3 linked regions of the Homo sapiens genome follow. The protein of the gene in region 1 interacts with the protein of each later gene in a pairwise test. Each region holds a gene or a part of one and is shown in the gene's direction. Other genes may lie near its edges.

The links.
Region 2: the proteins of USP40 (region 1) and TCF25 interact in a two-hybrid assay, tested with the Homo sapiens proteins (one study listed by BioGRID).
Region 3: the proteins of USP40 (region 1) and ACSF2 interact in a two-hybrid assay, tested with the Homo sapiens proteins (one study listed by BioGRID).

Annotation. Positions count from the first base shown.
Region 1 is NC_000002.12:233,519,427-233,530,260, reverse strand, and holds part of USP40 (ubiquitin carboxyl-terminal hydrolase 40), read left to right. Parts: intron 1-748; coding exon 749-830; intron 831-2,682; coding exon 2,683-2,854; intron 2,855-4,698; coding exon 4,699-4,783; intron 4,784-5,698; coding exon 5,699-5,769; intron 5,770-6,771; coding exon 6,772-7,091; intron 7,092-9,146; coding exon 9,147-9,270; intron 9,271-10,589; coding exon 10,590-10,647; intron 10,648-10,834. UniProt on the Homo sapiens protein: May be catalytically inactive.
Region 2 is NC_000016.10:89,895,818-89,906,651, forward strand, and holds part of TCF25 (ribosome quality control complex subunit TCF25), read left to right. Parts: intron 1-172; coding exon 173-266; intron 267-2,739; coding exon 2,740-2,832; intron 2,833-2,949; coding exon 2,950-3,055; intron 3,056-4,817; coding exon 4,818-4,977; intron 4,978-8,300; coding exon 8,301-8,388; intron 8,389-9,120; coding exon 9,121-9,279; intron 9,280-10,376; coding exon 10,377-10,467; intron 10,468-10,834. UniProt on the Homo sapiens protein: Component of the ribosome quality control complex (RQC), a ribosome-associated complex that mediates ubiquitination and extraction of incompletely synthesized nascent chains for proteasomal degradation.
Region 3 is NC_000017.11:50,429,218-50,436,217, forward strand, and holds part of ACSF2 (medium-chain acyl-CoA ligase ACSF2, mitochondrial isoform 2 precursor), read left to right. Parts: intron 1-7,000. UniProt on the Homo sapiens protein: Acyl-CoA synthases catalyze the initial reaction in fatty acid metabolism, by forming a thioester with CoA. Has some preference toward medium-chain substrates. Plays a role in adipocyte differentiation.

The DNA of each region.
Region 1 (10,834 bases):
TTTAAAATTGTGTGTGTTTGTGTGTGTGCCTGTGTGTGTGTGTGTGTGTGTGTGTCTTGGGAGTGAAATTATGAGCAGTATCTATTTCTTTTACACTTAAAAAAATTCCAGAATTTTTACAGTAGTCATTTATTGTATTTGTAATCAAGATGAAAATCTGAGGCCAGGCGTGGTGGCTTATGCCTTTAATCTCAGCACTTTGGGAGGCTGAGGCGGGCAGATCACTTGAGGCCAGGAGTTCAAAACCAGCCTGGGCAACATGGCGAAACCCTGTCTCTGCTAAAAATACAAAAATTAGCCAGGCGTGGTGGCAGGAGCCTGTAATCCCAGCTACTCAGAGGCTGAGGCACGAGAATTGCTTGAACCTGGGAGGCAGAGTGAGCTAAGATTGCGCCACTGCACTCCAGCCTGGGCGACAAAGTGAGACTCCGTCTCAAAAAAAAAAAGAAAAAGAAAAAGAAAAAAAAAAGATGAAAATCTGGGTGTTCTTTTTAAAAAGTATACTTAAAAGAGTTGAAAAAATGGAATTCTTCTAGCTTGTCTTAAAGAAATGTTTACTTTTCATTTGTTCTAACTTTTTCATTTTTCAGATGGGAAAACTGAGATCCTGAGAAAATTCGTATTCACACAGCTAATTAGTAGCAGCTTTCCTAGCTCCTAGGACAGTCCTTCCTAGTCTTCATGCTACCTCTTCCAGCAACCAGATTTCATTTAGCCAACACAAGTTAATGAAAAATTTTGTTCACAGCTCGAGCTAATCCAAGATATGGGGTTCCATGTCATTTACTGAATGAAATGGATGCAGCTAACATTGAACTGCAAACCAAAAGGTAATTTTAAATTGCTTTTAGAGTTTGACTAGTATTCCGGAGAATAAAGATCTGATTTAGGCCTTAAGCATTCAGTAATGAAAATTAAAAAGAAAAAAAATAGTCAACTTGTTAATGCAAGTGTCTGTTTGGCTGCTGAATTTTTATAGTGAGGGTAACTTTAACTCTGAAATTATCCCTTATGTGTGAGAGTGAATTAAATGGTGACATATAAAACAGCCATTGCTAAGTAGGGATCGAAGCCTAACAAGAGTAGAGAAATCAGTGAGCACATAGTTGGGCTGAATGAATTGTATCCTGGCCTGGCCAGATTATTTCCTTGGGTCCAAAGAGAGCCTGCCATGAAAATCACCCCTCATAGGTAAGTAGTTGTAGCGAACTGGCATGTAGTGAGAGAGGATCAGTGGTGGGCAGATTTTCAAAAGGAGGGAAATATGGATGCTATAACCTATTGAATGCAATGCTGATCTTGGGGGAAAGCCTATGATGGATTCTTACTTAAAGAGATGGTTTGTGAGAACTTTATGATCTCAGCATTCTCTTTTGGGGCCTCACCTTTGACTCTGAACTGCTTCTTTATTTGTGCTCTGTTAGGGTCAATAGGGTATTGGGTTAGGAAAATGGATGTTACCGTGATCTCCTTGTGGACCAAACTGCCTGATTATGTGACAGGGTGTATTTGACATTTTTATCATTGGCTTGGAGCTGGGGGAAAAAAGTACAGTGAATGACACGAGCAAAGAAACAACAAAAACCAAGATACCAAAAAGATTAAAACTTAACAGAGCGAAATATCTTAAGTCTAAAAAATAACCTGCATAAGTGGTCTGGACTAGCAGTTGTTATTTTAAAAAAATAAAAATAAAAAAATAAAAGGCAGAGCCTGAGGGGCTGTCATCAACCCGCACTAAGGTCTTTCGTGTGGTTGTGCTCTCTGACCATGTTCATTGAAGTGTCCTGAAGTACGTGAGTTGCGTGATAAGCCTCATTCCAGCTCCACATTGGTCAGACCCTACCTGTGTTTCGCACTGGCTTCGAGTCAGCCAAGTGGATTCAGAGAAGAGCAGCCAACACCAGGCTGCTGCCAAGGACTTTTAGCCTGGATAATGTGGTCTCGGGAGGTTCATGCTACTGGCTTCAAATATTTCATGGGGCCGGTCGCAGTGGCTCACGTCTGTAATCCCAGCAATTTAGGAGGCTGAGGCAAATGGATCACCTGAGATCAGGAGTTCAAGACCAGCCTGGTCAACATGGTGAAACCCCATCTCTACCAAAAATACAAAAATTAGCCAGGCATGGTGGCACACACATGTAATCCCAGCTACTCAGGAGGCTGAGGCAGAAGAATCGCTTGAACCTAGGAGGTAGAGGTTGTAGTGAGCCAAGATCGCAGCACTGCACTCCAGCCTTGGCGACAGAGTGAGACTCTGTCTCAAAAAAAAAAAAAAAATCATGGGAGAATGTGCAAAATCTAGTGGAAATAAGGATGATAGATGACATGGAAGTAAATCTGCTACTTAACATAATGATGTAAGCAGGTCTCTAGCATTTTGTTCATAACTATAATATAATCTCAGAATTAGAAGATTTCAAGTGTCAGCCTTTGTTCAGAGAAATGGAGTTAACATTGCAGCCTATGTTAAAACAGTTTTCTCTTGGAATTCATGGTGACAGAACTGAATTTTTGCTATTGACTGAAAAATTAAAGTGACTAATTGTGGCACATAGAAGAAAAATTGTTACTTTGGTGGGATGGAGAACTTTATTGTAAGCCAGATATCTTTGGTTTGAGATAAAACACAGTGTCTGTTATAAAAACACAGTATTTATGTATTTTTGTGCCTCTTTAAAGGGCAGAATGTGATTCTGCAAACAATACTTTTGAATTGCATCTTCACCTGGGCCCTCAGTATCATTTCTTCAATGGGGCTCTGCACCCAGTAGTCTCTCAAACAGAAAGCGTGTGGGATTTGACCTTTGATAAAAGAAAAACTTTAGGAGATCTCCGGCAGTCAATATTTCAGGTAATATCGCCTTACTTCCTCTTAATTCAGACATCGAGCACCATCTCCAGCTAGACTCTCCATTTCATTCTGTTTAGGATACAACTTTATTTTTCAAAGCTGCTTAGGAAGATCTGACATCTGCCACTTCATAGAGGGTTGACCCAAATCTTCTCTCCTAAGTCTTTTAGAGAGGCTTTTCTCCACAGCTCCTACCAGCAGCTTTTCAGGTAGACAATCAGGCCTGGTACATTTTATTTGAGGGGAAGAAAGAGTATAAAGTTGTCTCTTTTTTAGAAAATAAATGAAAGCAAATTGCCTTTCAAAGAGAGTGAAAAGATAAAGATGAGCATGTTGTGTAAAACTGAGAACTGCTGAACAAATAAACGCAACTAACTTTATACCCTGTAGTATAGAACAGTATTTATTAATAATATTCTTAAGTGAAGGAAAGTATCTGCTAGTCTAGAGTAAAAACAGTGCTGTAGTCTCCAAGTCATTTTTCTAGGTATGTTTTAATGATGATAGCAACAGCAGTGTTCTTTATTTTACTTACACTGCTTTCATATAAATCATGTGATTTGGTTCTTTAATCTCATGAAGACACATTAGCCCCATTTTGAAGTTGAGGCAGTGTGATTTAAAGAGACTCAATGTCTTGCCTGTGGTCCTAAATCTAGTTGATGGAGCTGGGACTCTGTCCCTCTTCTCCCTACTCTTCATCTAGGGTTTTTTTCTCCTAATCACCCTCCTGCTCCACACTACTTTCTGATCAAGGAAAAGGGAGATAGAAAATGTTAGCTTTTTTGTGTTTTTTCCCAGAAATTAGTTAAATGAATTTTCTGAAAAATCCTATTACCAAAACTATTAGCTTTCTTTCAATTTTCTTCTGCTAAGAAAAGCAAAGCAATTTCCCTTTTAACCTTAGTTGATTTGAAGTTTTTTAAATACTAGATCAGTGTCAGGATTTCTAAAGTTGTCTAATATTTCTGAACTTTTTCATTAGAAATTTATTTCTGAGCCAATTCTGGCACTGTTGATACAGGCAGATGTGGGAATCTGAACCTAGTCTAGGGGGATATTTTAAATGGAAAGGATCTTATTCACTTTGTAAGTGTGAGGTACACTCCAGTCTGTGTGTTTTGGTGTTTTAAGTGTATATGCCTACTAACTATTCTCTTAGAAGGAAGCCACTGACAAGAGGCTAGAAAACTTAATTCACAGCAAACTAATCACTTGTAAATAAGAAGTTTCTTTTTAAGAAAATACCTTATGGTATTGTAGAGAATGACTAGATAGGAATGACTTTTATGGTGATATTATTTTGGTGACCTTGCCACAGTGCTCAGACTCTCAGATCTAGAAACTTAAAGAGCAAAGCCATGGTAATCTATTAAGTAAACTGGTAATGCACCTTTATAAATTTGCAATGGGAGACATTCCTTTCAAGCAGCTAGAAGATGAGTGTGTGCTAGAGTCAGGGCTACATTTCCCTCAACATTGCTAATTCTGCAAATTAGTCTTGCTCTTTTGAGTAAAAATTCCTAGGCTGACATGCTCATCAACTTGCTTTCTGAGAAAAGTGCTCTTCATATATATTAAGCAGAATTGTTTAGATGGTTGTTGTGCCCTTTGTGTAGGCCAGAATTCTTCACTCAGGAATGGAGGAGATTAGCCGTCTTTGGCTTTGACTAATTTAACAAGTGATGCCTTCTTTTCAAGTTTTCGGTGTTGGGTGGGGGTGAGAGTATTCATTTGCTTGCTCTCTGTGTCATCTTCATATGTGAGTTGGCACAGTAACCTGGAAAGGTGATATGTATATGTCACTTTTCAACATTCTCTTTTCCTTCATTAATATTCTTCAGCTGTTAGAATTTTGGGAAGGAGACATGGTTCTTAGTGTTGCAAAGCTTGTACCAGCAGGACTTCACATTTACCAGTCACTTGGCGGTAAGATAAATATGAAAACATAGCAACTCACTCTATATATCTACATTTTTGTCCGGCTCACCTGCGATTTTCTACTCTTTGTCAGTCCTTCCCCACCTACTACTTTCTTAACTAAGTAGATTATCTTCACACTGTAAGTTTTCCAAAAGAAATAAAATATCCACGTTTTAATGTATCCAGTTTATATAATGTGTGAAATTCTTCTAACATGGAAACATTTTATTTTTTCTGAAATTAAGGCTACCTCTACTAAAATTTCTTGAAAAGCTTTAGAATTTTTTATATTGACACATATTGTTGAACAACATAGTTTCAAACCATCTGAATCATATTTATGTGACTTGATTTTCTGCCCAGTTCTCAGCTTCAGATTTTGTAGTAAAACAAGAAATACTTTGAGAGTTTGAAAGCATTTACTTCCTTTAAATAGCAGGAAAACAATGAGAATTAACAGTAGCGGCAGTAACATCTAATTTGGGCCAAAATCTGTAATAGGTGTTTTATGTTAATTATCTCACTTGATTTTCATAAAATTCTTTTATCTCCATTTCATAAATGAGAAAACTGAAGCTGAGAGACTTGAAGCACACAATACAGCTTGTGTTATGGACATATCGGTGGAGTTGGGACCATTCCATGCTTAAGCCTAACTCCTGTTTCCAATGTCATGTGCCTCAAGTACACTTGACCTTTGGATTATCTCTCTTGTCCTGCCACCATGCTCACAAGCTTTTGTCACAACGTTTTAAAGAAAAATTACAATGAAATAATGTCAATAGAATAAAAATAATTACTACTTTTTAAATTTTCCTTAGTGAAAATACTTTTTCAAACAAATATTTGTCTCAGCTCTTTCTTTAGCTCAGTTGTTTCTGATGGTCATGATGAATGGTCTCACTGGTGATCTCTTTCTAGGGGATGAACTGACACTGTGTGAAACTGAAATTGCTGATGGGGAAGACATCTTTGTGTGGAATGGGGTGGAGGTAAAAAAAATTACTGAAGAAATATTCGTGATAATTTTGGATGTTTTAAAAGTCATCGTAATGGCCGGGCATGGTGGCTCATGCCTGTAATCCCAGCACTTTGGGAGGGCGAGGCAGGCAGATCACCTGAGGTCAGGAATTCAAGACCAGCCTGGCCATCATAGTGAAGCCCCATCTCTATTAAAAATACAAAAATTAGCTAGGCATGGTAGCGTATGCCTGTAATCCCAGTGACTTGGGAGGCTGAGGCAGGCGAATCGCTTGAACCCGGAAAGTGGAGGTTGCTGTGAGCTGAGATTACACCACTGCACTCCAGCCTGGGTGACAGGGCAAGACTCCATCTCAAAAAAAAAGTCATTGTAATGAAATTTTATTCAGCCTATGTGAGGGCAATTAGATATTAGAAAACTACTGAAATGCTTGATAAATGTTAGGGACAATCAGTGCTAGTTGTACGCCAAGGAGACATTTCTTGAGCGCCTCCGTTATACCAGGTTGTGCGTCAGATGCTAGATCAAAGGCCAGTCAGTTGATCTGTGTCCTTTTAGGCCCTCGTCGTGTGAAGAACTGCACCATACGTGCTGGAGTAGGGGGTCTGTGCATAGTGCCTGTGGGAATTTAGAAGAGTGAGAATCTATACTGAGTTGGGGAGTGGGGGTGGTTTGGAGGTAGAGAGTGAATTTTCTATCTCTAGAAGGCGGCCAGGAGCACTTCAGCCACTCTGTGAACTGACCTTGGCCAATCTGGCTTCATCACCACCCATGATAACTCATAAATGTCTATCTCCAGTCTATCATAGATTTCTCCTAAAAAAATAAAAGATAAGAAAGTTTCAAAAGAAAAATCTGAAGTTGTTCCTCTGATGCTTAACAGACATTTGTGAAAATTTTATTTTACTTGGAAAAAATGAGGGTTGTTCTCTAAGAGTAATCTTTTACCATGTTATGTTGACGGTGTTGGCAAATATCAGCTGTACTAATGGTTGTCTTGGTATGATTGCAGGTTGGTGGAGTCCACATTCAAACTGGTATTGACTGCGAACCTCTACTTTTAAATGTTCTTCATCTAGACACAAGCAGTGATGGAGAAAAGTGTTGTCAGGTGATAGAATCTCCACATGTCTTTCCAGCTAATGCAGAAGTGGGCACTGTCCTCACAGCCTTAGCAATCCCAGCAGGTGTCATCTTCATCAACAGTGCTGGATGTCCAGGTGGGGAGGGTTGGACGGCCATCCCCAAGGAAGACATGAGGAAGACGTTCAGGGAGCAAGGGCTCAGAAATGGAAGCTCAATTTTAATTCAGGATTCTCATGATGATAACAGGTAACTCGCTAACAAGAGAAAAAGGATTTCTAAAAGTCATTTTAATTACAGTACCACCCAGCAGAACTCTAAAGCTTTATTTTAGTGACAAGAGTTGAATGTTTCTTTATTTCTAGACATTATGTTCTAAATATTGCATACAGGAATGTTTTAGGTTATGTAACTTAGAGAAAAACATGATTTTTTGTAAAGGGACTTTTTGGTAAATGTGGTGAGAAAATAATATAAGTATCCCTGATTTTCTAGACTGTATAGAGTATCAATTAGTTGGCTGTAATGCAAAAGTTATCAAGTGAATTCTGATTAGTGCCAGTTATAAAACCGAAGGAAATTCTCACAGAGAAAACTGAAAATTTTCCTGAAGAAGGTATTAACATTATGGCTAAATTGTTTCTGGATATTTTGTTTCAGGAGACCCATAAGACAACTCATTGTTTCCTTATAATCCGTTCTGTGACTCTTGAGAACCCAGTTGCCCAAATAGAGCAGTTACGTGGCGAATTACCCCCATGAATCCTGTGGTCACATTTAAAGCTGCATCTCTTTGTCATCTATGTCTGTGACAGTACATTGCTGTAGTCAATGTGTCATACACTGTAACTGCAATATTTCCATATATTGAAGACTTCAAGCTCCCTGTTTTCTCAGTGCTACAGATTTACTTAGATTGCAGGATGTCTGTATCATTATTTATAGTGGCTTTGATGCAGAGAAGCAGAGCACTTGTGGACCGTTTCTTTCGTAGTACACTTACCACTATTACTCTTTTGGACAGGGGTTTTGCAGACATTCCCTACCTTGTTTATAAGAACTGTATTTCCTTTATAAAAGGCAGTATGCATTTATTGGGACTGGGGAAATACAAAAGTGAAGACAGAAGGGACCCAAAACAGTATCCGTCTTCTCAGCATGCAGTGTTAATCACTGTTAGCATTTGGGTGCCTTTCTTTTTAAACCTAATAATGATTATTTTGTAGATAAGTAGTTGTATCCTGCTTTCCATTACCCCTGCCCAACCTTGAGATTTGTAGACTCTTTATAAACTGCCTTGAATGGCTACATAGTAATCTATGTGACATTATAGTTTGCCTAACTGTGCTCCTAGGCAAGTCAGTAGGCTGTAGTGGGACCTTGGGCAAGGTATTTCGTCTTTCTCTGCTCAGTCTTCTTGTCTGTCAAATAGGGATAATAACTAGTGCCAACTTCATAGACTTGAGAGGATTGAAAGAGTTGAGTGCTTACAAAGTACACACAGTAAGTGCTAAATGTTTTAGTTAATATATTACGGTCATTGTCATAATTATCATACAGTTTTTCACTATTTTAAAGTAGTCTTCATGGAGCATCTTGTGCTTCATACTTTGTTTTATTTGGGATTGCTAGCTTAAGGTAGGAGCTCAGAATGGAATAACTGCAATAAAGAGTAGAATGATGTTTCAGAGCTCTAATGTACATTCCCAAAGAGGACTTCGGCAAGCCCATTAATGCTTCTGTGTGAATTAGAAAGAAGGCACCTCTTCAGGACCCTTTACTACTATCTGTGGGAAAATGTTAGAACAAGATACTCTACTGCCGGCTGCAATTATAAAACAAAACTCTATGTAGAAATGCAGTATACAATATATATGCCATGTGTGACACTCCTTAGATGTGGCCCTTTTGTGCAGTGTCAGTCTACAGACTGCACATGGCTGCCCTGTTGTTAAATGAAATCTAGATCCAGTGGGGTAGGCTCCTGGCATAGGTGCTCTTTTAAAGCTCCCCTAGTGATTTGCAGGGTGCAGGCAGAAGCCAGCAACTGTTTACTTACAGAAGTTCTCTGTGAAAAATGTGGCAACAAATTATGTAGGTAAATCAAAGAATATTTGGAGTCATGAATATAGACTCTATAGACTACTGCCTAACATTACCCTGCAAAGGTAGCCCACTTATCATAGAGACGACTCAGTAGAACTTGGTCACCTCTAATTAGTCACATTAAGTGACACATGCAGAGTTTTGGAAGTGATGCCTAAGGAAAGGTATTAATTTCTGATCTTTTCTTTTTACCTACAGCTTGTTGACCAAGGAAGAGAAATGGGTCACTAGTATGAATGAGATTGACTGGCTCCACGTTAAAAATTTATGCCAGTTAGAATCTGAAGAGAAGCAAGTTAAAATATCAGCAACTGTTAACACAGTGAGTAGAATATAATTAAAGGTTGGCTGATAGATTTTCAGTTAACAGAATTTTATTTAGAAAACAATACCTTAATCTTTCAGAACAGTTGTCTCAATAGACTTCAGCTCTTAGGAAGTCAGCTTTTTATTTAACATTTGATTATTGCTTGTTTACCTATGTTAGCCCTTAGCATATTTCAAGAAAATACGTGCCTTTTAAAATTTCCTCCAAAGCCTAGAATTAGAATGTGGGAGTTACTCATTTAGTTAGTTCATGGAATTCTCTGGCTCCCACAAAATGAAATTCTTTGGCTTCCTTGAAAATGCTGTTTTCAAGGGTCTTTTCTGTATTTTTTTTAAGCCAAGTATACATATGTTTTGGTTTTGTGTTGTGGACTTCTGTTTTTTAAATTTATCTTAAATTGTTTTACATTATACTCTGTTTTTCTGTAAAGCCAGGTGTTCTTAAAAGGAACTCTTTCAGTTCTCCATTTGAAGACTAGTTTCGTTAAACACCATCTCAGGAAATACCTTTTTATATTTATGTAGTCTCAATTCATTATGGGTTTTTTTTCTATAACAAGTTGAAACTTACTAGAATGTTGTTTTCTTTTATATAAATATTATAATTTCTTAAAGTGTGTTAATATTTACACTGTATGATGAATACACTAAAGTTCAGAAGATCTAGTACCTTGACCCTAAGTGAGAGACTTTGGTGAAGTCCTTTATGACTCACTCTGTTTCTTCTTTTCACAATGTGGGGTGCTGTGGGAGGACAGATTGTCTGACATCGGTTTTACTCCTAAATTTACAAGATTTTGTATCCTAGAGGAAATTAGGTTAAACTGAAAAAGGGAAAGAATCTAAAATAAAGTCATTTAAACAGAAATTTTAAATAGTGCACTCGGGCTGATAGTATACATTTTTATTTATGCTTACTGGCCCCACATTCATCATTCCTGACATAGAGAAATGTGATTGCCTGCAGTTTATTTTGTTTGCTTTCATGAGAAAAGTTACTGGTTTGTCAGCTTATTGCCTTTCAGCTAGTTTCTTTAGTTTCTGTAGTTTTCTACAGTTTCTGTAGTTTTCTGTAGGTGTCCTTTCTGTTCCAATTAACATCAATTTGGTAAAAACTTAACTATGAAGTCCTAAGTTTTTGCTTTTGATCTTATAAAAGGATTTCAGGGATGGAAAAATTTCCAGTGGGCAAAAACTACTAAATGTCAGGTAATTAATATCTCAAATAATTTGTTTATGCACACAGTGACAATCCTCATTTTCATCTCCTCCCATTTTTTACAACTTAGTCATTATTTTATTTCTCTGTTTTAGATGGTGTTTGATATTCGAATTAAAGCCATAAAGGAATTAAAATTAATGAAGGAACTAGGTAATCATTTACATTTTCTTTTCGGTTCTTAGTTTAGCTTAATTTTGGTCTTGAATTGAAGAAAATATAGGAGAATACAAAAAACAGTTTAGGGAGAACTCACATACCTACCACCCAAAATGGACAAATATTAACATTTTGTCATATGTTTGTTTTTGTTTGAAACATTATAAATGAAGTTAAAGTC
Region 2 (10,834 bases), on another chromosome or scaffold:
AAATGCAGCGTGGCATCCAGGGTGCCCAGGGGCATGTCTGCCCTCTCAGTGTCCAGGACTCTAGTTTCGTGACCTTCCGTCCAGACCTTTCCTTGTTGTCCATTATCAGAGGAGGGGCCGTGGTTGCTGTGTGTGGCCATGACACCCTCCCCTGGCGTCCCTGTGCCCACAGAGAGAGCGCTGTACAGCATGGAATGTGCGTTCCACCCCCTGTTCAGTCTCACCAGTGGGGCCTGCCGGCTGGATTACCGCAGACCCGAGAACAGGTGAGTGCAGCTGCCCTGGAGGTGACGCAGCTCCCCTTCCCTTCTCCTGCGAGTGAGGCTGGGGGAGGTGCAGTGGGCACCTCATGGCTGCCCTCCAGGGTGGACCAGGGCCCACAGGTCCAGAGTGACCCACCTTCCTCTCTCTGGGCTTAAGGATAGAGGGATGGGATTGTCTCAGCCCAGGTTTACCTTTGTCTGTGGACATGCCTGATGCTACTGTGGAGGTCAGAGTGGGAGGTCTGCTGAGCCCAGGAGTTCAAGTCCAGCCTGGGCACCATAGTGAGACCCCCATCTCTTAAAAAAATAAAAATAAAAATAAATGTTTGTGTTAGAAGTGAGCCTGGCTGGGCACAGTGGTTCACGCCTGTAATCCCAGCACTTTGGGAGGCCGAGGTGGGAGGGTTGCTTGAGCCCAGGTGTCAAGACCAGTCTGAGCACCGTGGCAACATGCAGTCTCAAAACAGCATTTTTTTTTTTTTTTTTTTTTTGAGACGGAGTCTCACTCTGTCACCCAGGCCGGAGTGCAGGGGCGCGATCTCGGCTCACTGCAAGCTCCACCTCCCGGGTTCAAGCCATTCTCCTGCCTCAGGCTCCCGAGTAGCTGGGCCTACAGGCACGTGCCACAACGCCTGGCTAATTTTTTGTATTTTCTAGTAGAGACGAGGTTTCACTGTGTTGGCCAGGATGGTCTCCATCTCCTGACCTTGCGATCCACCCGCCTCGGCCTTCCAAAATGCTGGGATTACAGGCGTGAGCCACCGCGCCCGGCCACTACAGAACATTTTAAAAACTAGCTGCGCCTGGTGGCGCGTGCCTGTGGTCCCAGCTACTTGGGAGGTTGAGGCGAGAGTATCACTCAAGTGAGCCCAGGAGGTCGAGGCTGCAGTGAGCTGAGATGGTACCAGTGCACTCCAGCCTGGGCAGCAGAGTGAGACCTTGTCTCTCAAAAAAAAAAAAAGAAGAAGAAGAAGAAGTGAGCCTGAGAAACCAGATCTCCACAGTGGGCTCTGCAATTGCATTTCCTTCTATGTTTGGCTGAGAAAACCCATCCCTGGCAAGTTTAGAAGCTTTGGAAGGCTTTGCAGGTTTGACCTTAAATCAGTGAGGAGCTCAGAGTCAGCCTGACCCTCGCTCCCCTGTGCTGAGCGACCGCATGTGGAGGTCTCTCTTCTTTCAGATACTTCTGCCCCTAAAGCCATCCCTCTGGCATCAGGCCTCGCTGGTCAGACCTAGACTGGCTTCCGCCAGGCCTTCCCGCAGCCTGTCCTGTGGGCCCTTTGTGGAGCAGACCAGCTTCTGTCCGCTGTCCTGCCTCTCCTGTGTGCAGTGCCCTGTTTCTCTGGCCGCCCTGGGTTGTCTGCAGTGTGGGATCCGCTCCTACCCTCTCAGCCCTCCTGGCAAGCCAAGGTCCGCTGACCCGTTCTGCACAGATTGTCTGCACTGTGTGCTGGGTCTGAATTTCCTCCACTGGTTTTCTTTATGTTAGTTTTGTCTCTTCCAATGAAATTCTTAGTTCTTTGAAGTAGATTATAAAATATTAATATTTCCCGACGCGAAAGAGACAGTGGGCTGTTGATGGAAGTAGCAGCCCACCAGCATCCGAAAGTCACAGGGCTCCATGTATCCAGCCTGAGTGCTGTTAGCCACTGTTGAGATTGGAGGATAAATTAAGATCGTAATTGTAACAAGAGATTTTAACTCTCTTCCTGTAAATGATAAATAATAAACAAAAAAACAAGATAAAGATTTCAGCGGGGCGTGGTGGCTCACGCTTGTAATCTCAGCACTTTGGGAGACCGAGGCAGGTGGATCACAAGATCAGGAGATCGAGACCACGGTGAAACCCCGTCTCTACTAAAAATACAAAAAATCAGCTGGGTGTGGTGGCGGGTGCCTGTAGTCTCAGCTACTTGGAGAGGCTGAGGCAGGAGAATGGCATGAACCCAGGAGGCGGAGCTTGCAATGAGCCGAGCCGAGATAGCGCCACTGCACTCCAGCCTGGGTGACAGAGCGAGACTCCGTCTCAAAAAAAAAAAAAAGATTTCAAAGAAGTTTGATTTTCAGTATGCAAATTCGTGTATAACTCTGTAAAGGACAAGGAGAGCGCACACCTCCTCTCCAGACATGGATCTCTGTGTGCTGGGCACGTAGAAAATGCCAGCAGAACCCAGAGAGCAGAATGGGGGTGGAGCGGGTGCTGACCGGGGCGCTAAGCAGTGTGTGGGGTGGAGCGGGTGCTGACTGGGGCGCTGAGCAGTGTGTGGGGTGGAGCGGGTGTTGACTGGGGCGCTGAGCAGTGTGTGGGGTGGAGCGGGTGTTGACTGGGGCGCTGAGCAGTGTGTGGGGTGGAATGGGTGGTACTGGCCAGGACGCTGAGCAGAGGGCGGGGTGGAGTGGGTGCTGGCCGGGGCGCTGAGCAGAGAGCATTCTCCTTTGTGTCGTTGTAATTCATGTGGAACTATTTTGGATCTAGGAGCTTCTACCTGGCCCTCTACAAGCAGATGAGCTTCCTGGAGAAGCGAGGCTGCCCGCGCACGGCGCTGGAGTACTGCAAGCTCATCCTGAGGTGAGTGTCTGCTCAGGGCCAAGCCCGTCCACGCTCCCTGTCCTGGCTGCAGGCCCACTCTCAGCCTGACGATGCCCCTGTTCCCCTTTGCTCTGCTCTCTGTGCTGCCTCCGGAAGTCTCGAGCCGGATGAGGACCCCCTCTGCATGCTGCTGCTCATCGACCACCTGGCCTTGCGGGCCCGGAACTACGAGTACCTGATCCGCCTCTTCCAGGAGTGGGAGGTGGGTGCGAGCCTGGTGAGGCCCCGTGGAGGGACGGACACCTGCTTCTCCTTCTGTTTTCTTGGTTCAGTATCTGTGCGCTCAGGGGACGTTTGGGGATGAAACGATAATCGTCTGAGGGCAGAACCACGTCCTCCTGCCTTGTTTGTCTCCCTTGCCGCCTCTACGGAGTGGAATGTGGTTTTCCTAGGGACAGTACAGCAGCCTTATGTCAGAATCCTCATACGTGTGTACACATGCTCAAACGTGTGTACACATGCACACGTGTGCCTGCAAGGACTGTGATGCTGGTAATGATGAAAAACCGACAACTCCCGAGCTCCTCATGGGCAGTTCAGGAAGATGCAGCCGGGAGGTAGAAGGAGGGTTGGTTGCGTGGGGCTGACACAGGGACCCCCAGCACGTCTGTCCTGTTCCATGGGAAGAGTGTGAGTACAGCAGGAGAGACTTGAGCTCTGTCCCCAGTAACTCTAACACAGACACGTGTTGGAATGATAATTTCGGTGTATTGGGTTAGATATAACGTATTAATCTCACCTGTTTTGTCTTTAATGCAGCTCCCAGAAAATTTAAATTGGGCCGGGCATGGTGGCTCACGCCTGTAATCCCAGCACTTTGGGAGGCCGAGGCGGGCGGATCACCTGAGGTCAGGAGTTTGATACCAGCCTCAACATGGAGAAACCCTGTCTCTACTAAAAATACAAAATTAGCTGGGCGTGGTGGTGCATGCCTGTAATCCCAGCTACTCGGGAGGCTGAGGCAGGAGAATCGCTTGAACCTGGGAGGTGGAGGTTGCGGTGAGCCGAGATCGCGCCATTGCACTCCAGTCTGGGCAACCAGAGTGAAACTCCGTCTCAAAAAAAAAAAAAGAAAATTTAAATTGACACCTGGGCTCCCATTATGTTCCTATGGGGCAGCACTTATCTGGAAGGACACGGGCTTTGTAACGCTAACCTCCAGCAGGGCCTGGGGCTGGGGAGAAGGCGACAGCTCTTGACTTTCTCTGCTTCTGTGTTGAATTTTTTTCATAGCACATGTTCATGGATAATGAAAGTGGGTAAATTATTTTGAATTTTTAAGCATTTGGCATAGTTGGCCAGGAAGTCTCACCCCCAGGAATGTGGTTTATAGAAATTCCTGGAGCTCACAAAAATGTAGGTGCAGGGAAACCTCAGGGAGTCCCCCAAAATGGGGCTGCAGAAGAATGTTGATGATGGTGTTTAAGGTCACAAAACTGTGAGTCTGTGATCCCATTTTGATAGAAAAAAATGCAGTGAGTCACATGTCTACAATATGTGACATAGGCTGAGAAAGGCAAGAGAAACTGGCACGGTGGTAGACTGCTCGGAAACTCGCGTGGCGGGCTGCTCTCGGAAACTCGCGCGGCAGTGGGCTGCTCTCACAGACTCGCGCGGGGGTGGGCTGCTCTCGTCTGTAAATTTTCCACATTGAGAGCACCAACTGCTCAGCTTCAGAGAGGAGCCTGGGCGGCAGGTGGGACCCTCACTCCCCACGGTGTCCTCGCTCCGGCTCAGTCTACTTCTCAGGCCCTCCCACGTCCTCTGTATCTTCTGCATGCGGAAAGCCCCCCAGGTGGACGTTTTAAGTTATCTTTATGCTGAGTTAGGAAGAGGCCCTTGCGTTGCCTGCAGAATATACCTGCTCGGGGTAGGGCTCACTGGTGATGTCAGAGCGTCTGCAAACTCACATATTTTGTCTTTATGACTTAAGGCTCCACGCTCTGTTTCTTCGTCCCTCGTAGGCTCATCGGAACCTGTCCCAGCTCCCTAATTTTGCCTTCTCTGTTCCACTGGCGTATTTCCTGCTGAGCCAGCAGACAGACCTCCCTGAGTGTGAGCAGAGCTCTGCCAGGCAGAAGGCCTCTCTCCTGATACAGCAGGCGCTCACCATGTTCCCTGGAGGTGAGTGAGCGCTGTGTCTCGCCTGGGGTAGGGGTGTGTCCTGTCAGCCGTGGGGGCTGCTCTTCCTGGTGGTGGAGGCCAGGTCCCAGTCCTTCCCCACACTTGTAGAAACATGCATTCTCTGGTAGGGCCTGCAAACCTGCCCTACCAAACCTGAAAGAGGGTCGGCTCATCTCGGAACCCGCTGCGTGCCAAGCCAGGCACGAGGAGGTGGCAGGCATCCCGACCCCCGTGGGGCCTGTGTTCTAGAGTGCAGAGACAGAACTGGCTGGGAGGTGCGGGGCATTGGATTGTACCAGTGCTGGGGAGGAGAGCAAAGCAGGGGAAGGTCTCGGCAGCGCCGAGGTGTGGCCGAGAGGGTTGTGCTCTGCACCATGCTGGGATGCAGAATGGAGGCCTGTGCCGCCCAGATGGACTCAGCCTGCACAGCCGTGACCCCTGACTGCATCTGGGTAGCTTCGATCCACGCACATGTGGCGGGCACAGTGAGGCTGCCACCTGGTCAGACCTCGGGGCTGACCCTGCCTGACAGCATGTGTGAAATCCCTCTTTAAGATGGGCCTCCTCCGAGGAGCTGTGAGGGGTGAGGGTGAAATCCCTCCTTAAGACGAGCCTCCTCTGAGGGGCTGTGAGGGGTGAGGGTGAAATCCCTCCTTAAGACGGGCCTCCGGCCGGGCGCGGTGGCTCACGCCTGTAATCCTAGCACTTTGGGAGGCCGAGGTGGGCGGATCACGAGGTCAGGAGATCGAGACCATCCTGACTAACACGGTGAAACCACGTCTCTACTAAAAATACAAAAAATTAGCCGGGCGTGTTGGCGGGCACCTGTAGTCCCAGCTACTTGGGAGGCTGAGGCAGGAGAATGGCATGAACCCAGGAGGCAGAGCTTGCAGTGAGCCGAGATCGCGCCACTGCACTCCAGCCTGGGCAACATAGTGAGACTCCGTCTCAAAAAAAAAGAAAAAAAAAAAAAAGACGGGCCTCCTCCGAGGGGCTGTGAGGGGTGAGGGTGAAATCCCTCCTTAAGACGGGCCTCCTCCGAGGGGCTGTGAGGGGTGAGGGTGAAATCCCTCCTTAAGATGGGCCTCCTCCGAGGGGCTGTGAGGGGTGAGGGTGAAATCCCTCCTTAAGACGGGCCTCCGGCCGGGCGCGGTGGCTCACGCCTGTAATCCTAGCACTTTGGGAGGCCGAGGTGGGCGGATCACGAGGTCAGGAGATCGAGACCATCCTGACTAACACGGTGAAACCACGTCTCTACTAAAAATACAAAAAATTAGCCGGGCGTGTTGGCGGGCACCTGTAGTCCCAGCTACTTGGGAGGCTGAGGCAGGAGAATGGCATGAACCCAGGAGGCAGAGCTTGCAGTGAGCCGAGATCGCGCCACTGCACTCCAGCCTGGGCAACATAGTGAGACTCCGTCTCAAAAAAAAAGAAAAAAAAAAAAAAGACGGGCCTCCTCCGAGGGGCTGTGAGGGGTGAGGGTGAAATCCCTCCTTAAGACGGGCCTCCTCCGAGGGGCTGTGAGGGGTGAGGGTGAAATCCCTCCTTAAGATGGGCCTCCTCCGAGGGGCTGTGAGGGGTGAGGGTGAAATCCCTCCTTAAGACGGGCCTCCGGCCGGGCGCGGTGGCTCACGCCTGTAATCCTAGCACTTTGGGAGGCCGAGGTGGGCGGATCACGAGGTCAGGAGATCGAGACCATCCTGACTAACACGGTGAAACCACGTCTCTACTAAAAATACAAAAAATTAGCCGGGCGTGTTGGCCGGCACCTGTAGTCCCAGCTACTTGGGAGGCTGAGGCAGGAGAATGGCATGAACCCAGGAGGCAGAGCTTGCAGTGAGCCGAGATCGCGCCACTGCACTCCAGCCTGGGCAACATAGCGAGACTCCGTCTCAAAAAAAAAGAAAAAAAAAAAAAGACGGGCCTCCTCCGAGGGGCTGTGAGGGGTGAGGGTGAAATCCCTCCTTAAGACGGGCCTCCTCCGAGGGGCGGTGAGGGGTGAGGGTTATTTGCGTGCAGCTAGTATACACACATTACGTGACCACTCATCGCCTATTAGGATGTCCTGGAAGCAGCATCCCTTTCTCGGTTCTGTGGGTTTCCAGGGCTCTGTCTGGGCCCCGAGGAGGCCCACGGCGTGGGGTTGGGCAGCTTCTAGCACAGGCAGAAACGTGCCCCCCAGAGGGGCCTGGCCAGGCCTCAGTCTGCTCGCTGACCCCAAAAGTTTCGTCCCCTGTGTCTAAGAAGCACCTTTGTCCTCCTCTGGGGCTGCATGCAGCTGGCCATATGCTCCACCAGTGCAGCCGTGTCTGGAAACGCGGCTGGGAGGCCCTGTCCTTTGTGGCAGAGCTGTGCTGCTGTGTCACAGGCTGTAGCGTCAGCACCTCCCTTGAAGGCAGGTGGGCTGCCAAGAAGCCGCTGCCACTTACCCCAGAACACTGGAGATCACTGCAGGCTCTGCCCTCGGGGCCCGTTCCCCTACATGGCGGCCTCTGCCCTCAACCTGCAGTGCTGGCTCTTCCACTGGGCACAGGTGGCCTCCGCTCCCACCAGCCTGCCATGGGGTCCAGTCTTTGTGATTAAAACATCCAACCGGCCGGGCACGGTGGCTCACGCCTGTAATCCCAGCACTTTGGGAGGCCGAGGCAGGAGGATCGCTTGAGCATAGGAGTTCGAGACCAGCCTGGTCAACACGGTGAAACCCTTTCTCTACCAAAAATATAAAAATTAGCCGGGTGTGGTGGCGGACGCCTGTAATCCCAGCACTTTCGGAGGCTGAGGCAGGTGGATCACCTGAGGTCAAGAGTTCAAGACCAGCCTGGCCAGCATGGTGAAACCCTGTCTCTACTAAACATACAAAAATTAACCGGGGCGTGGTAGTGTGCGCCTGTGATCCCAGCTACTCGGGAGGCTGAGGCAGGAGAATCGCTTGAGCCTGGGAGGTGGAGGTTGCAGTGAGCCGAGATTTCGCCAACGCACTCCAGCCTGAGCAACAGAGTGAGACCCTGTCTCAGAAAAACAAAAAAAAACCCAACCCCATGTGTGTGGAGGGTGGTGGGTGAGTCTTCCCTTGGATGCAAATGGGGGCCCTGGCAGCCTCCTTGGGGCTGGTGTGAAGGAGACCCCCAGCCTCAGACCCTGGGCACGCCAGCAGCAGCAACTCAGAATACCACCCGGAAGCAAGCCGCTGGCCCTGCAGACTCTCCACCTTAGAACAGCTGTGTCTGTGACAAGGACCTCGCTGTGTCCCTTACTGCCTTGGGGGCTAGGAGTGGCTGGGGTGTGTGCTGAGGGCCCCCACAGAGCCTCCGCTTCCCCTGCAGTCCTCCTGCCCCTGCTCGAGTCTTGCAGTGTGCGGCCCGACGCCAGCGTTTCCAGTCACCGCTTCTTTGGACCCAATGCTGAAATAAGGTAAAGAGTGGCTGGTGGTGCCCATCTGTGGGTGCCTGTGGGTTCGGAGCCTGGGAGCCATTTTCACTCATCCTGAGAGGCCCTGAGGGACCTGCTTCCAGCAGCAGGAGGGGCTGTGGTGGCGGCCTCGGGGACTGTCATTTGACATGGGACGGCTCTGGAGCCCTCATCTGTGTGGAAAAGTCCAGGTGGGACAGCTGAGCAGCCTCCAGCTTAAAAACGAGGCTCATATAAAGAGGGTGCCAGGCGTGGCGGCACATGCCTGTAATCTCAGCTTTTTGGGAGGCCGGCTTGTGCCTGGGAGGTCAAAGGTACAGTGAGCTGTGTTTGTGCTGCTGCACTCCAGCCTGGGTGATGGTGAGACCCCGTCTCAAAAAACAAAATAAACAAAGAGGGAGCAAACACAGGAGAAAGTGCACGCCTTGGGGTCATCCCCTGGCCCTCCAGGGCTCGCCCTGTGTGCACGCAGATGGACCCGCCCTGGGTGCATTTTCACATTTCTGTGACGTCAGTCCTGCTTCCTAAAGAACATAACCTGCCCAACAGGCTCACGGCACATACCTGTGTGCCCCAGCCCCACGCCCTCAGGCCAGCAGCCCAGGGGCCTCCTTTCACTCCAGGCCACAGGGCACTCCCTGGACCCCCCGTCTGCCCATCCATGGGGCTCTGCCAGCCTCGAGGCAGGCTGTGGTCTGAAGAGGGGTTCTGCTCAGAGCCCTTGCTCTCCCCCAGCCAGCCCCCTGCCCTGAGCCAGCTGGTGAACCTGTACCTTGGGAGGTCACACTTTCTCTGGAAAGAGCCCGCCACCATGAGCTGGCTGGAGGAGAACGTCCACGAGGTTCTGCAAGCAGTGGACGCCGGGGACCCAGCCGTGGAAGCCTGTGAGAACCGGTGAGCTAGGGGTTGACACAAGCCCTGCCACGCCCCCTCCTCAGGGACCCTCATCCCAGACACGGGGGCCTCGCATTCGGGAGGCGAGAAGGGCTGTGAGCAGCTTGGCCTCCCTTGCTGTGGGGCCTGTGTGGAGCCTACAAGACAGCGCACAGCCCCTGGCGTGTCCCAGAGGCTTCCTGGGAGGCAGCTGTGGTGATCAGCGCAGGGTACCGAGCTGCTGTTCCCGGGTGCCTCGGGCTGGAGTGGTGCCTTCGGGTCTTGCAGTGTTTCCACATGAGCTGTGAGATGATGACGAGTCTCTCACAGCAGCATCTTGGGAGTAAAGAAATCTGGCAGAGACGAGAAAGAGTCTCCTGTCCTGTGTGTGAACACTTCGGAGGCTCATGCCCTAATATGCTGCAACTGACAGGCATCCCCTTGCTGTTCTTGTCTCGTTTGTCTGCGCCCTTGGCCCTGTGCTAGTTCTGTGCATCAGCACCGTGGCTCTGTGCAGTGGTGTGGCCAGGCTCAGGACCGCCTGGGAGTGGTGCCCATTTGCATCTCCACAGTGAAGTCTGTGTGCCGCGGACATGAGGTGTGCCCGGGGGTGCCCAAGAGGCGCTGGTGCCCCCAGCCGCTGGCAGTCATGGGCCCGTCCGCGTGTCTGCTGTCCCCACTGGACTGGACATTCTCATGGACAGGAGCATTTTGTTCCCTGTACTGCTCTCCAAGAGCGATTTCCAGCAGGGACCAGTGCCTGTGCCTGTAGCCGTAGCAGTGACGATGGTGACACACCCAGGTGTCCCTTCATGGAGATGAACTCAGTGACTTCCCACAAGAAGCCACTGGCTACGGCTCTCATCGTTCTTGTTCTTTGGATGAAGAGGCTGAGTCACTGGCCATGTGGCTGGGATTGGTCCCCAGAGGCTCCCCAGCCGCAGGCCAGGGACCAGCCATGGTGCCTCTGCTCGAGAGTAAAGTGTACAGTTTTTGCAGCCACCAGAGATGCAGCGAGATGCCTCGTGCTGGGTGGGGGTGGGGGCCGAGGCTCCATGGCGGTTACCATTTCATTTGCTGTGCTTTATCTGCTGTGCCTTGTTTCTCCCCGGCCCTAGGCGGAAGGTGCTCTACCAGCGTGCACCCAGGAATATCCACCGCCATGTGATCCTCTCTGAGATCAAGGAAGCCGTCGCTGCCCTGCCCCCGGTAAGGGAGAAAGGCTGAAATGGGAGCTCTGTGTAAGCCGGTCACATGCACGTCCCTTCTGCTCCGGGCGGTCCACATGCAGGCGTGCGTGGTGCGGGCTCCCTCAGCAGCCCAGCCCCGCCACGGCAGGGGCAGGGTCTAGTGCAGAGGGCTCCTCCTTTCCTGGCAGCCCGGGTTCGGATGCTTGTTGTTTTGAGAGAGAAATCCTTTGGGGCTCAGAGCACAAGCTGAGTCGTCACCGTGGTGAGCTGCTCCATCCGTGGTCTTGTGAGCGCGTGGTGCGGCTGCTGGGGGATTCTCTGTAGTCGTGGGGTGTAGTCCTGCTCTGACGCCTCCTGTGCTGGAGGTGCCGTTTCTGTCTCAAAAC
Region 3 (7,000 bases), on another chromosome or scaffold:
ACTTACTACCTTCTTGCTGTGTTGTTGGGCTGATGAATAAAACAAGCTTGCTCTTGTTCTCAGCCTTTCCTTTGAGGCAGGGCTGATCCCTGGAAACCCTTGACTGGTGTCTGGGTGGGAATTCTGACTGATTTGAAAGTAGGAGAGGATCCCCTGATTGGTGGCCTCTTTCTGGAACCCAATTATTTCTCCTAGCTGATTGCCAAGATGGTGACTTCCACCCAGCTACATGTCCAGTCCTTGGGTCTGCTGGACGTCCTCCTCTCCGTTTGACGCAGGGCTGTTCAGAGTCTTTCTCTTTTTCTTTTTTTTTTATTTGAGGTGGAATTTCGCTCTTGTTGCCCCAGGCTGGAGTGCAATGGCATGATCTCAGGTCACTGTAACCTCCGCCTCCTGGGTTCAAGCAGTTCTCCTGCCTCAGCCTCCCAAGTAGCTGGGATTACCGGTGTGCGCCACCCGCCCAGCTAATTTTGTATTTTTAGTGGAGATGGGGTTTCACCATGTTGGTCAGACTAGTCTCAAACTCCTGAACTCAAGTAATCCACCTGCCTCAGCCTCCTAAAGTGCTGGGATTACAGGCGTGAGCCACCACGCCCGGCCCAGAGTCTTTCTCCCCAGAAGGAAAGAAAAAGCTGTCCTTTGCTCTCCAGAACTCCTCACGACCAACTCCTTCCCCCTATCTATGTGCCTCCTTCCCCAAAGAAGGTGGATGGCTTAGTCTGGGGCTTCAGTGAACCTCCAAGGAAGGAATTCAAGGAGAAACCTGGGCTGAGCAGGCTTCCCCCAGACCTGCCCTAAAGCTGGCCTGGGGCTGCCTATGAGGCAGCTGCATCCAGGGTGTTGAGAACACTCAGAGCTGGGAAGGCAGAGAGATCAGTGGCTAAAGCCTCTCAGAATTAGGTGTGGTGCTCAGAGCTGGGGATCCAGTGACTTGGTGCTGATGGTGGGGACAGAGGGGTAAGGGGGCTTTGTGGACCACCCTCCATGGGGATGGCTATGATCATATAAGACTGTGGACCTAAGGGAAAAATCTGAGGCCAAAGTAATATAAGTAGAGAGATTTATTTGGGCCATGTTTGCAGACTGCAACCGGGAGCATAGACTCAAGTTGCCCTGATTATATGATCTGATGAGCAGCAGTTACAAGTGGGTTTTTAAAAGAAAAGAAGGCTGGGTGCAGTGGCTCACACCTGTAATCCCGGCACTTTGGGAGGCCGAGGCAGGCAGATCACAAGGTCAGGAGTTCGAGACCAGCCTGGCCAATATGGTGAAACCCTGTCTCTACTAAAAATACAAAATTAGCTGGGCATGGTGGCGGGCGCCTGTAGTTTCAGCTACTTGGGAGGCTGAGGCAGGAGAATCGCTTAAACCCGGGAGGAGAAGGTTGCAGTGAGCCGAGATTGTGCCACTGCACTCCAACCTGGGCGACAGAGCGAGACTCTGTCTCTAAATAAATAAATAAATGAAAAGAAGAGACAGTTCCTAAGTGATTTACCAAGAATGTACATTAAAATGATATAAGCTATTGATTCATTATACTTTGTTCTTTGTATCACAAATTTTGTTAACATGAAAGTAATGGGTAAAGCAGCTAGTTAGGAGCAAAATGCCTTTAAACAATTGTCCCTGGGAAGGAAGGAGCATGACTGAAGTCTCATGTCTCTCTGGGCTTGACACATTTTGCATACATCACATAGCTCAGACAGCTGCTGAGCTATTTTTCTGTTCTTGTGACCAACAGTTTACACACACATGGAAAACTACAAAATGCTGTTTCTATACAAGCGCCTTGTATTAAGCCTGGAAGTGTTATGGGTGGTAACCATAAATAGTTACAAGAAATAGACTCTTCCCATAATTTCCAAAACATGATTTATGAATGATTTGGTAACGATATCCCTATGCATTCCACTGGGGATCCTCCAGTCTAAATGTAACAGTAGAAAATAACTATGAACTTGGCTGCTGGAATCAGTGAATGGTACACATCTGTTTTAGTTACCCTCCTCTGCTTTGAATGCTGTACATTGCTGCAGTGTACTGTGAAGCATGTAAAGGTAATAAAAAGATGAATGAGTTTGTTTTCATTGACAGAGCTGTTTTTCTAGAAGGAGTCTACAGGGGAAGTCCATAGACACACTGATTCAAGGCAGAAAGTTTGCAGTGCCATTAAAGATGTCAATCAAAGCAGGAGGAATCTGGTTTGTGGAAATGGGAGGGGGAGACTTCCCAAAGAGCCTGGGGTTAGAACCTGATCCCTGAAAGGTTAGGTCTGCAGTTTGAAGCCTTTGTACTTCCGTGAAATCTCACTTGTGCTTCAATCGTTGTGAACCCTGGTGCCATCATAGCTTGCTATAATCTCAAACTTCTGGGCTCAAGCATTCCTCCCATCTCAGCCTCCCAAGTAGCTAGGACTACAGGCAAGTGCCACCATACCCAGATCATTTTAAAATTTTTTGTAGAGATGGGGTTATGAAGTATTGCCCAGGTTGGTCTCAAACCCCTGCCTCAAGCCATCCTCCTGCCTTGGCCTCAAGTGCTGGGATTATAGGGGTGAGCTGCTGATCCCGGCCTCTATTTTACTTCAATCTACAGATGAAACTTTGGAGCCAGGCAGATCTGGATTCAAATGAACCACTTTCTAGCTGAGTAGTTTTTTTACTTAAGTTAAACTTGACTTTTTTTTTCTTTCTTTCTTTTTTTGGTGGAGACAAGGTCTCGCTCTGTCACCTAGGCTGAGTGCAGTGGCACGATCACAGCTCACTACAGCCTCGAACTCTTGAGTGATCCTCCTATCTCAGCCTCCCCAGTAGCTGGGACTACAGGCCTGCGTCACTACACCCAACTAATTTTTGTATTTTTTTGTAGAGATGGTGTTTTGCCATGTTGCCCAGGCTGGTCTTGAACTCCTGAGCTTAAGTTACCTGCCTGCCTCAGCCACCTCCCAAAGTGCTGGGATTACAGGTGTGAGCCACACGCCTGGCCTTGACTTTTCTTATGTATAAATAGTGCATTGTGAGGGTTAAATGAGGTCCCATAAGAAAATGCTTAACACACAGTTTGATGCCAAGGACATGTTCATCCCATTGCATGGGTCAGTGAGCAACCTGTCCTAGTGGTGAGCTATTTTACAGGAATGCTTGTGTAATGATGGCTTGGCCCATTCTTACAGTGACCCCAAGGCCCACAGTATAGTAACTGTGTCTGGGGAGTAGGAGGGAGAAGGTTCCAGCAGGGTAAACTACCTAAGCAAAGGTGGGGCTGCTGGAGATGGGTGGACAGGCCTGAGCTTATGCTGAAGATGGGAATAAAGCTGGTCATGCATTCAACAGGCCAACATGCAGGCTGTAATTTCATCTTCTGGGTTGGCCTTGCCATGGGACTGTTCTAATAACGAAGGGTAGGAACAATTCTGCCAGTGCCTCTCCCTTTAGAACTAAACATGTTGTATTTCTAGCTTACAAATCGTGCTTTATAAACCTCAGTGGCATGCATGTATTCCTCCATTTGGGAGTTAGTTGACGGGAAAGCAAATCCCAGTCCTACCAGTCCTAACTTAGTGTGGCTTTAGGCAAGTTACTGAACCTCCGCAGACCTTAGTTTGTTTGTAAAATAGGCTGTTTGGACAAGATGTGCTCTACCTTTGGGAGAAGATTCTGTGATTCCTAAAGAGGCTGGAGTTTGAGCCTGATCCCTAAACCCAATAAGGCTGTGATTTGAAGTATGCAGCCTTCATACGTGTGTGAAATTTCACTTGGTCTCTTATGAACCCTGAGTATGCAGCTTCCTAACCTGACATTCTGTAATTCTGTAGTCCCCTGAGCAAAAAGAAGCATCAAGTTTTGTTTTATACACACACACGCACACACACACTTAAATATGTTTTTCTTTTTCTTTTTTTTTTTTTTGAGACGGAGTCTCGCACTATCACCAGGCTGGAGTACAGTGGCGCGATCTGGGCTCACTGTAACCTCCGCCTCCTGGGTTCAGCAATTCTCCTGCCTCAGCCTCCCAAGTAGCTGGGATTACAGACACCTGCCACCACGCCCAGCTAATTTTTTGTATTTTTAGTGGAGATGGGGTTTCACTATGTTGGCCAGGCTGGTCTCAAACTCCTGACCTCGTGATCCGCCTGCCTTGGCCTTCCAAAATGCTGGGATTACTGGACTCAAACAATCCTACTTCCTCAGCCTCCTGAGTAGCTGGGATTACAAGCACAAACCACCATGTGCACCTGGCTACCTCAAAGGTTTTCTTCCTAGAAAACTAATATCTAGCCTTGTATGTATTTTAGTAATCCTATCAAGGGACAAGTGTCTTGACTCAGCCCCCATCCCTGATTCCTAGGCACTCTTCTCCTGGGGTCTCTGTCCAGCTATTCCAAAAGAAAACCTGCAGCATGGATGCCTCCTGACTCCAAGTATTTCAGGCTACTCTGTCACCTGGGATGGAGTGCAGTGGCGTGATCACGGCTCACTGTAGCCTTGACCTCCCAGTCTCAGGTGATGTGCCCACCTCTGCCTCCCAAATAGCTGGGATTACAGGTGTGTACCACCATGCCTTGCTAAATTTTTTGTATTTTGTTTTGGTAGAGACAGATTTCCACTTTGTTGCCCCAGGTGGTCTCAAACTGCTGGGCTCAAGCGATCCTCCCAACTCAGCCTCCCAAAGTGCTGGGATTACAGGTGTGACCCACCGCACTGGCCCTTCTATGTCTTCTTGAGAGAGTTTTCTAAACCCAAATTATCACTTCTTATGTATTTTCTGTACATACTTACAAACACACCAGTGGTTCCATTCAAGATGCTGAAAATGGGCCAGGCACAGTGGCTCACACCTATAACTCAGCACTTTGGGAGGCTGAGGTGGGAGGATCGCTTGAGCCCAGAAGTTTGAGACCAGCCTGGGCAACATAGGGAGACCCCATCTCTACAGATAATACTTTTTACAAATTAGTTGGGTGTGGTGGCATGTGCTTGTGGTTCCAGCTTCCTGGGGGACTGAGGCAGGAGGATTGCTTGAGCCCAGGAAGTCGAGGCTGCAGTGAGCCGTGATCATGCCACCACACTCTAGCCTCAGTGACAGGGTGAGAGCATGTCTCAAATAATAATAATAATAATAACAAAACAAGATGCTGAGAATGGAAGCTTCCACCAATATAGAGTATCTTGTTCAAAATCTTTACTGGGCTGGGTGCGGTGGCTCATGCCTGCAATCCCAGCACTTTGGGAGGCTGAGGCAGGTGGATCACCTGAGGTCAGGAGTTCAAGACCAGCCTGGCCAACATGACGAAAACCCATCTCTACTAAAAATACAAAATTAGCTGGGCATGGTGGCATGCACCTGTAATCCCAGCTACTCGGGAGGCTGAGGCAGGAGAATCTCTTGAACCCAGTGGGTGGAGGTTGCAGTGATCCGAGATAGCACCACCTCATTCCAGCCTGGGCAAAAGAGCAAAACTCCGTCTCAAAAAAATAATTTTTTTTTTTTTTACTGTAGTCCTTACTAGTCTTTGTAGTCGTTTGTAGTTTGTTCTTTGTAGTTGGTATTTTTCAGAGGTCACATACTCCTCAGGGTGGTTATGTCGAGTGGTAGAAAGATCATGGGGCTTTATGATATAATTACATACAGTAAACTGCACAGATCTTTTTTTTTTCTTTTTTTTATTTTGAGACAGAGTTTCACTGTTGTTGCCCAGGCTGGAGTGCAATGGCGCAATCTTGGCTCATCACAACCTCCGCCTCCCAGGTTCATGCGATTCTCCTGCCTCAGCCTCCCAAGTAGCTGGGATTACCCGCATGTGCCACCACGCCTGACTTATTTTGTATTTTTAGTAGAGATGGGATTTCTCCATGTTGGTCAAGCTGGTCTCAAACTCCCGACCTCAGGTGATTTGCCCGTCTCGGCCTCCCAAAGTGCTGGGATTACAGGCGTGAGCCACCGTGCCTGGCCTGTGTCTGGCTTTTTTTGCTCAGAAGCCAAGGAGTGCTTTTGGGAGGAGCAGCTCATTAACCTTGACAAAAACTCACAAAAGTGAGTTTTACGTATTAAACAGCTCAATGTTTCAGAGTTCTGTATGTATTCTAGTATTATTCCTTTGTCAGACATGTGGCTTACAAATGTTTTTCCCCACTTTGTAGCTTTTTTTCATCCTCTTAAAAGGGTCTTTTGCAGAGCAAAATTTTTTAATCCTTTTTTTTTTTTAATTTTTTGAGAAAGGCCTCACTCTGTCACCCTGGCTGGAGCACAGTGGTGCAACCACGGCTCAGTGCAGCCTCAACCTCCTGGGCTCAAGTGATCCTCCTGCCTCAGCCTTCCAAGTACGTAGGACTATGGGTACACGCCACAAAGCCCAGCTAATTTAAAAAATTTTTTCATAGAGATGGATGGCACTGTGTTGCCTAGGCTGGTCTCCAACTCCTGTGCTCAAGTGATTTTCCCACCTCAGCCTCCCAAAGTGCTAAGATTACTTTACAGACGTGAGCCACTATGCCCAGCCCATATAGCAATTTAAAAAAATTTTTTTATAAAGTCTAATTTATTAAGTCTAGTTTATAAAGTCTAGTTTAGTGAGTTTTTTTTTTTAGATGGGATCTCATTATGTTGCCCAGGCTGGTCTCCAACTCCTCGGTTCAAGCAATTCTCCTGCCTCAGCCTCCCAAGTAGCTAGGATTACAGGTGCATGCCACTGCACCCAGCGCTCAGTGAGTGTTTTTTTTTGTTGTTTGTTTGTTTTTAATGGATCTTGCTTTTGGTGTCAAGCCTAATAACTTTTTGCCTAGCTCTAGATCCAGAAGATTTTATAATTTTTTTTTACACTTAAGTCTGATTCATTTTATTTTTGCTTATATAGAATGTGAGACTTAGTCAGAGTTCATTTTTGTTGTTGTTGTTGTTGTTATTTTTTATTTTTTTTATTTTTTATTTTTCGAGACGGAGTCTCGCTCTGTTGCCCAGGCTGGAGTGCAGTGGCGCGATCTCGGCTCACTGCAACCTCCGC